2 linked regions of the Homo sapiens genome follow. The protein of the gene in region 1 purifies or fractionates together with the protein of each later gene. This does not show direct contact. Each region holds a gene or a part of one and is shown in the gene's direction. Other genes may lie near its edges. The genes, in order: ZNF106 and PPP2R2B.

Region 1 (3,821 bases):
CCTTGGCCTCCCAAAGTGTTAGGATTATAGATGTGAGCCACCGTGCCCAGCCCCAAGAGGTTCTTGTAGCAGTTCAGCGTTTGTGCAGCTTGACACAGAGCATAGCTTGTCATTTATCAAACACTGATTGTCCATTTACTTTTTTTGGACATTTTTGTTGCCTTGCTTAAGAGGAAAGAAAAGTTTGATTTCCTAATACATCCAGTTAACAACTGTAGAAGAAATATATGATGTCACATAGACTTGTAAGCCAAGGTTAGTATACCACTTGGACAATATAAAGCCAGGAAGTTTCCTTGAGCCTTTTCAGTGGGATGAAATGTGTTGGCCCTCTTGGTCATGTATAGCCATTTCTCTCACTTTCAGTTTTTGAGGCATCTTGGTTGCTTCCCCGCTGCCCCACCTCCACACTCCCTTCCTTGGTTGCTTTTCTAAAGTGAATTATGGAAAGAAGTTATTAACATTGCTCCCTCATTGATGTATTTCTGTGATTCTTGCTTTTCCTTGACTCTAACCCAGTTCTAGTATAAGGGCTAGTCCTGGAAGTGATTGGATGAGGCTTGAGTGAGTGGATGTGATGGATAAGGGAGGAGTCAAGGACAACCCACATTTCTGGCTGGGCCAACCAGATGGAGCATATGTAGAGCTAGAAAACTCCATGAGAGGAGCAGATTGAGAATAGAGAAAGATGATGAATTCCCTCAGGGATTCTTTGACTTAAAGGACCTTTGAGATAACCTAGCTAGAAATATCATAGTCAGTAGTTGGATATGTGGGTGTGGAGCTTAAGGGAGAGGTCCTGGCATATTGAATAGGAAACAGACAAACACAATGATGGTAAATACATACACAGAACATTTTATTCAAACTAAGTTAAATGTACTATTTCAAAGCTGTATTTTCTTCAGGAAGTCTTCTCTAATAAAAACAATTTTTAAGTCAACTAACAGACTAAATATGGATTGGAAAGAGAGTGCAAGCAGTCTAGGTCTAGAGTCCAATCTAAGCAAAAGTCCTGTGTGAAGACAGTGGTAGATAAAGGAAGAATGGGAAACGAGTCCTAGAACAGGTGGTTTGCATGGGACAGATTTCACCTGGAAAGGTGGTGGTAGAAGGCGGTGATTAGATGAGACAGAATGATGTGATGGTACACTGGAGCTTATGAGATACCTCCATCTTAGCAGTTCTCACTTTTGGTTCCTAGCTTTGATATCATTGTGCTTGACTAAATGTTTTATGAATTTCCAATGACCTACTGAGGAGAACATAAAGTCTTATCCTAAATAATGGGTATAGTTTAGTCTTCTGAGCTGTGTGATGAGAGGGAAATCTCTCGTATTAACCTGAACCTTATGATTTCTTTTGGCAGAACGTTCTCAGGTTGACCAGCTGCTGAATATTTCTTTAAGGGAGGAAGAACTTAGTAAGTCATTGCAGTGCATGGATAACAATCTTCTGCAAGCCCGTGCAGCCCTTCAGACAGCTTATGTGGAAGTTCAGAGGCTACTTATGCTCAAGCAGCAGGTAACAGCATGTGGAGGATTTAATAAAAATGGATCATCTCCGAAATCTTGTTTTGTGCTGCCAAACCCATGTCTGGAGTCACCCCAAAAGCAATGGCAGGGGAGTTTCCACAAGGGAAGTGCCCCAGACTGTGCCTAATGGGGGACAGTTAGGATTCCAAAGAAAGAAGCACTAAATGCCAGGGTGATGAGTCCAAAGCATTTATTAGGAGAGCTTACTTACAGAGTAGGCTGCAGCAGTCCCCACAAGGGTGTTCTCCCTAGGTATATCCACAGCCAGGGGGCGGGATGTGGAGTTTATATGAGGGTTTAAGGAATTTGGCTCAGGGCCAGGGCCAATTTCTTTCAGTGTTTTGGGCAACAACCTAGATACTTTTATCAGTGCCTGGGAATCTTCAAGGCCCCAGGTAGGGTTCAAGCCTGCTGGAGAAAACCTGCGGCTGGCTGGGTCACAGAGCAGTCAAGACACTCTGATTTTTGGTCAGGACATAGAAGAAAAATGGGGAGACCTAGAGGACCTTACAAGTTGGATTTCAAAATGCTTAATAAAATACTTTATTTTTAGATAACTATGGAGATGAGTGCACTGAGGACCCATAGAATACAGATTCTACAGGGATTACAAGGTATTCAGAGGGCATCTGATGGATTGGGCCCTCTATAGCGTGTTACTTTTTTGTTTTCTCTGCTTTTTTTTTTTTTTTTTTTTTTTTTTGGAGACAGAGTCTTGCTCTATTTCCCAGGCTGGAGTGCAGTGGTGCAATCTCTGCTCACTGCAACCTCTGCCTCCCAGGTTCAAGTGATACTCGTGCCTCAGCATTTGATTAGCTGGAATTACAGGTGCCCACCCCACCCCCAGCTAATTTTTGTATTTTTAGTAGAGACAGGGTTACAGGGTTCGCCATGTTGGCCAGACTGGTCTCGAACTCCTGACCTCAGGTGATCCGCCTGCCTCAGCCTCCCAAAGTTCTGGGATTACAGGCATGAGCCACTGCACCAGGCCTTTTTGTTCTCTTTGAGGGGATGAAAAGTAGTCATGAAAAGGTCATGTTATTTCTCTCCTGTCTCCTTGGTTTCATCCTTTTTTTTTGTTTTTTTGAGACAGGGTCTTGCTCTGTCACTCAGGCTGGAGCGCAGTGGCACGATCATGGCTCACTGCAGCCTTGACCTCCTGGGCTCAAGCAATTTTCCCACCTCACTCCCCCCAGTAGCTGGGACTACAGACGTGTGTCACCATGCCTGGTTATTAAAATTTCTAACTTTTAATTTTATAAAATTATGATTTAAATTGTAAAAATTTAAAGGTTATAAAAAGTTATATAAAATTATAAAAAGTTATAAAAATTAAAAAATGCTTTTATAGAGATGGAATCTCCCAGTGTTTCCCAGGATAGTCCCAAACTCCTGGGCTCAAGCAGTCCTCCTAACTTGACCTCCCAAATGGTTGGGATTACAGGCCTGAACCACCACGCCTGGCCAGTTTCTTCCTTCTATAGAAAGGTCTGTAAACTGTGCATCCCAAAAATGTTTAGCAACAGACAATATGTTATGGAAAGAGTTTTGATTAGGAATCAAAAGGCCTGGGTTCAAATCTTCTCCCTTCCATTAGTAGCCTATATAACTTTGGATAAGTCATTTAAAATTTGAAAAATTGGAATGTTGCTAGGCACAGTGCCTCATGCCTGTAATCCCAGCACTTTGGGAGTCTGAGGCAGGTGGATTCCTTGAGCCCAGAAGTTTGAGACCAGCCTGGGCAATGTGGTGAAACCCTGTCTCTACAAATAAATACAAAAATTATTGATAATTATTATTAGTAATAATAATAATTCCAGCCTGACCAACATGGTGAAACCCCATCTCTACTAAAAATACAAAAATTAGCTGGGCATGGTGGCGTGCTCCTGTAATCCCAGCTACTCAGGACGCTGAGGCAGGAGAATCGCTTGGACCCGGGAGGTGGAGGTTGCAGTGAGCCGAGATTGCGCCACTGCACTCCAGCCTGGGTGACAGAGTGAGACTCTGTCTCAAAAAAATAATAACAATAATAGCTGGGCATAGTGGCATGTGCCTATAATCCCAGCTGCTTGGGAGGCTGAGGCAGGAGAATTGCTTGAGTCCAGGAGGTCAAGGCTGCAGTGAGCAGTGTTTGCACCACTGCACTGCAGCCTGGGTGACAAAGCGAGACCCTATCTCAAAAAAAAAAAAAAAAAAAAGAATGTTGATGCCTATTCTCTCTGTATCCTTGGTGGTTGTAGAGATTATATTCTCCATATTTCGGAGAATTATGAGGGACTATAC
Region 2 (3,821 bases), on another chromosome or scaffold:
ACCTATTCGTTTCAGGGAAGATTCATGCAATTTTGTTGCCAGAGGGGGAAGAGTCCCTGTTCTTCCAATGAATTCCTTAAGAAGTGTTAGTATACCTTGAAAAAGCACCAGATCAAAAGACTTTTTAAAAATTCTCCTCACTGGGGACTTGCCCCACAAGTTTTCTTCCCCCTTATTAACTTATACCCTCTTACTGGGTGGGGAATTAGCTTCTAGTCCTTCCATAGATCTTGCTTTTCTGTTTCCTTTACTATTTCTACATTTTCCTCCTACCTGCTCAGTTATGTCAGATTGTTCTTTTTTTTCCTCCAAAATATCTCCTTCACATGTATTTCTGAATTTTTCTTCTGTTTGCTCAGATCATTCCACATTGCAGTGTTCTATTTAAAGCTGAAAGGTTTTTGCTGTGTAGTTAGTGTGAAGGACTCTAAACTCAATTTGCATTGTAAGTGGTGACTGCAGGCAAGTTCATCCAGCTAAGAGCAATGCAAATGCTAAAGGACACTTTCACCCAAGCTCCCCTCTCTCAGTCTCTTTCTCTCTCTCTGTCTTTCTCAAAAGAATGCATGGTGTGCATTTAATAAATAAATTTCCTAGGACTTTTTTTTAATTCTGAGCATGAAAATTACCACCCTCCCCTACCTTTCCTCCTCTTTTAAAGTTAACATCTTTGAGCATCTTCTATGTTCCAAGCACTGTGCTGAGCTCTTTATGTATAGCATTTCAATATATCTAAACCCTGTTAAATGGATGTTGTCATTTCCATTTTCAAAGAAGGAAACTGATGCAACTGAGGTCTGAAGATGTTACTAATTTGCCAAAAGTCACACATTCAATGGAAAACCTTGTCTTCAAACTCAAGCCAGTGTCTGAAGGCCAGGTTCTCCCACTAGGAAATTCTGCACTACTTCATTTTCCTTTAACCATCAGCTCTTATTCTGGGAAAGATTGCAATGGTTTTATCTCAGTGTATAAGCTATATTTCCATCAGGCATAAAATCCTTTGCAGGGAAAATTTGAAGTGTGTGTATGGGGTTATATAGAGGAAGGGCCTTGGGTAGGGTTGAAATTTCCCACAAAAATAAAGTCAACACAATGGTTTGATTTTTTTTTTCAGATATGGAACCCCAGGTTTCCTAACCAGGGATTCATCTCTCAAATCTCTCTATATGTGGGTTTCCTGCTATATTTTTAGGCTTCTGTTACAGCCAAGTAAAACCCTATCTCCATTATAGCAGTCTGTGAGTTTTCTAGATTAATCTTCCTACTTTCAAATGGGGCCACAGATAGACCAAATATTCTACATAGATGGGGTGTTTTAAAATAACTGCTCTGTTCTCAGTTTCCTTAGCTGGAAAGTGGGAATAACAATAGAACCTATGCCAAAGAAAAATTATTTGATGCAGAGAAAGCACTCAAGCACTCGGGATATGCCTAATACAAAGCCCACCCTTAATTCATTATAGCTGTTATTGTTACTTAATGTACTTCCTGGTTATATTCTGGCAACAAGTGGGTTCCACCTTCCCTCAGAAGCCTTTTTAAAAAACTGTCTTGTTTATACATATTAAAGGAAGAACAAGTTTACTATTCCAAGTAGCTCCTTTCAATTATTGATTCATTCTGCCTTTAATTCCTTCAACAAATACTGACGTTTTGCAGAGGTGATACGGGATGTTCCAATACAGACGTGGTCTCTGTCCTCAGGGATCTTTCAATCTAGCAAAGGAGATAGTATGAGACAAATAATTTTGCAAATAAATATATAGTTACCAATTGTGATAAGTGATATTTAGGAAAGGCACAAGATGCCTTGGGGTCATAAGGTGGAAAGGTGGATCTAATTTAGATCGGGAGTTCAAGGACAGCCTCTCAGACAGCTGAAACTGAGAACTAAAGGATGAATTTGCAATTAACAAGACCTGAAAGCATTTTAGGTAGAAGGGACAATAGGTACAAAAGCCCAGAGAGATAAAATAGCCTAACTGATTCAAGGAATGGAAAGATGACTATGGCTAGGAACAGGGAGAAGAGTGATAAAAATGAGAATGGAGTCTGCAGTTCATTTTGAAATGTACCAGAAGCAAGAAAGATTAATGCTAAGAGAGAGGGATGGGTAAATGGATAGACATATGATAAAGCAAGTATAAAATGTTAGTCACTGGCCAGCCATGGTGGTGTATGCCTGTAATCCCAGCTACTCAGGAGGCTGAGGCAGGAAATCGCATGAACCCAGGAGGCAGAGGTTGCAGTGAGCCGAGGTCGCGACACCGCACTCCAGTCTGGTGACAGAGCGAGACTCCATCTCAAAAAAAAAGTTAATAACTAAATTGAGGTGGTGGGTCTATGGATAATCACTGTAATTTTTTTTCCACTTTGCAGTCTGTTTGAATTTTCATAATAAAATGTTGGGGGAAAAAAAGACTGGAGAAGTATTCAGGGACCAGATCATATCAAGCCTTGTTGACCACAAGGAGTTTGGACTCTATCCAAAGATGAATGGAAAGCCATTAAGGAAAAGGGAAACATGATCAGATTTGTTTTTCTAGAAGTTTAATCTGGCTGCTGTGTAGGATGGGGTTAGAGAGCCAGGCATGTAATGAAAAAGAATGAAAGTTGGGAGATAATTAGGAGGTCATGGTGTGCTCCAGGATGGTGGCATCAGTAGAGATGGAGAGAATTAGATGGATTTAAGATACGTAATAGAGAAAGATTGCATTGCACTTACTTACTATGATTGGGTGCAGATGGAGAAGGTGATGTCAAGGACAACTCCCAGAATTTTGCCATGAAAATGGATGCATAATGGGGCGCATCACTAAAAGCGGAAACAGACTGAAAACTGATTAGTTTGAGAAGACAGTGAGACATCTAGTTTCACAGTGAGACTTGCAAGTAGACAATTGGATTTCTGGGTCTGAAGCTCAAGAGAAAGACCTGGACTAGATAATAAATTTGAGATTAAACATCACCAGCATATTAAAGGTACTTAAAACTGTATGAATAGATGAGATGCCTCAGATAAGAACATTTCAGGGCAAAATTTGAACCAATGAGTGAGAAAGTACAAGGAAGTGGATCTTGGCTTGGTATGAAGAAATTGTAGCAAAAAAGTACCTCACAATAGAATAGGGCCTTGGTAAGCATAAATAACCACACACTGATATTATTCAAGTAATACTATAATATATGGCCATTTCTCAGCAATGTGGTAGGATAAGAAGAGTCCAGTCTTGGATGAGTTGAGTTTAGAACGTCTCCAGGTTTGAGATCTGAGTGATTTGTGAAATACATTAGCTTTTTAGGGCCACAGAGAGTAAAAGTGAGGAAGTAAAGATTCCTCCTCCATCCCCCATTCCAAATAAGCTCAAGAAAGGGGAAACTTATAATGAATAAAGCTGGGAAGGTACATGAAAATGGCTTTTGATATGAAGATGCTGGGAAGGCATTGAAAAAATAAAAGGGGGTAGTGTCATATGATGGAGAGCTGCCTCATAGTTCCTTAAGTTGCTTTGGTATTTGTATGCAAATGCCAGATCAGAATGCTGTTTCCAATGCATATGGATGAATGTTTGAGCTCTCTGCTGTTCTCAGAGAAACCTGAAATGCGAGGTGAGAAGTAGCTGCCTTACACTATTGTAAATGACCTTTCTGGGGATGGGAAATGTTCTGCTACTAAACATAATAACCAGAATGCATTGAAAATCACTAGCAAGTATTCATTATTAGCATCCAGGTCCCCAGGGGCAATCCCAAGCCCTTTATGAGTGCTGGTCAGAAATGTACCAATGATCCTGGGGTGAATAATATTAGGCCAGTCC

What was found.
Region 2: the proteins of ZNF106 (region 1) and PPP2R2B purify together in Homo sapiens (co-immunoprecipitation; one large-scale study listed by IntAct). This does not show direct contact.

What each region holds. Positions count from the first base shown.
Region 1 is NC_000015.10:42,442,530-42,446,350, reverse strand, and holds part of ZNF106 (zinc finger protein 106), read left to right. Parts: intron 1-1,369; coding exon 1,370-1,524; intron 1,525-2,088; coding exon 2,089-2,149; intron 2,150-3,821. UniProt on the Homo sapiens protein: RNA-binding protein. Specifically binds to 5'-GGGGCC-3' sequence repeats in RNA. Essential for maintenance of peripheral motor neuron and skeletal muscle function.
Region 2 is NC_000005.10:146,872,118-146,875,938, reverse strand, and holds part of PPP2R2B (serine/threonine-protein phosphatase 2A 55 kDa regulatory subunit B beta isoform), read left to right. Parts: intron 1-3,821. UniProt on the Homo sapiens protein: The B regulatory subunit might modulate substrate selectivity and catalytic activity, and might also direct the localization of the catalytic enzyme to a particular subcellular compartment.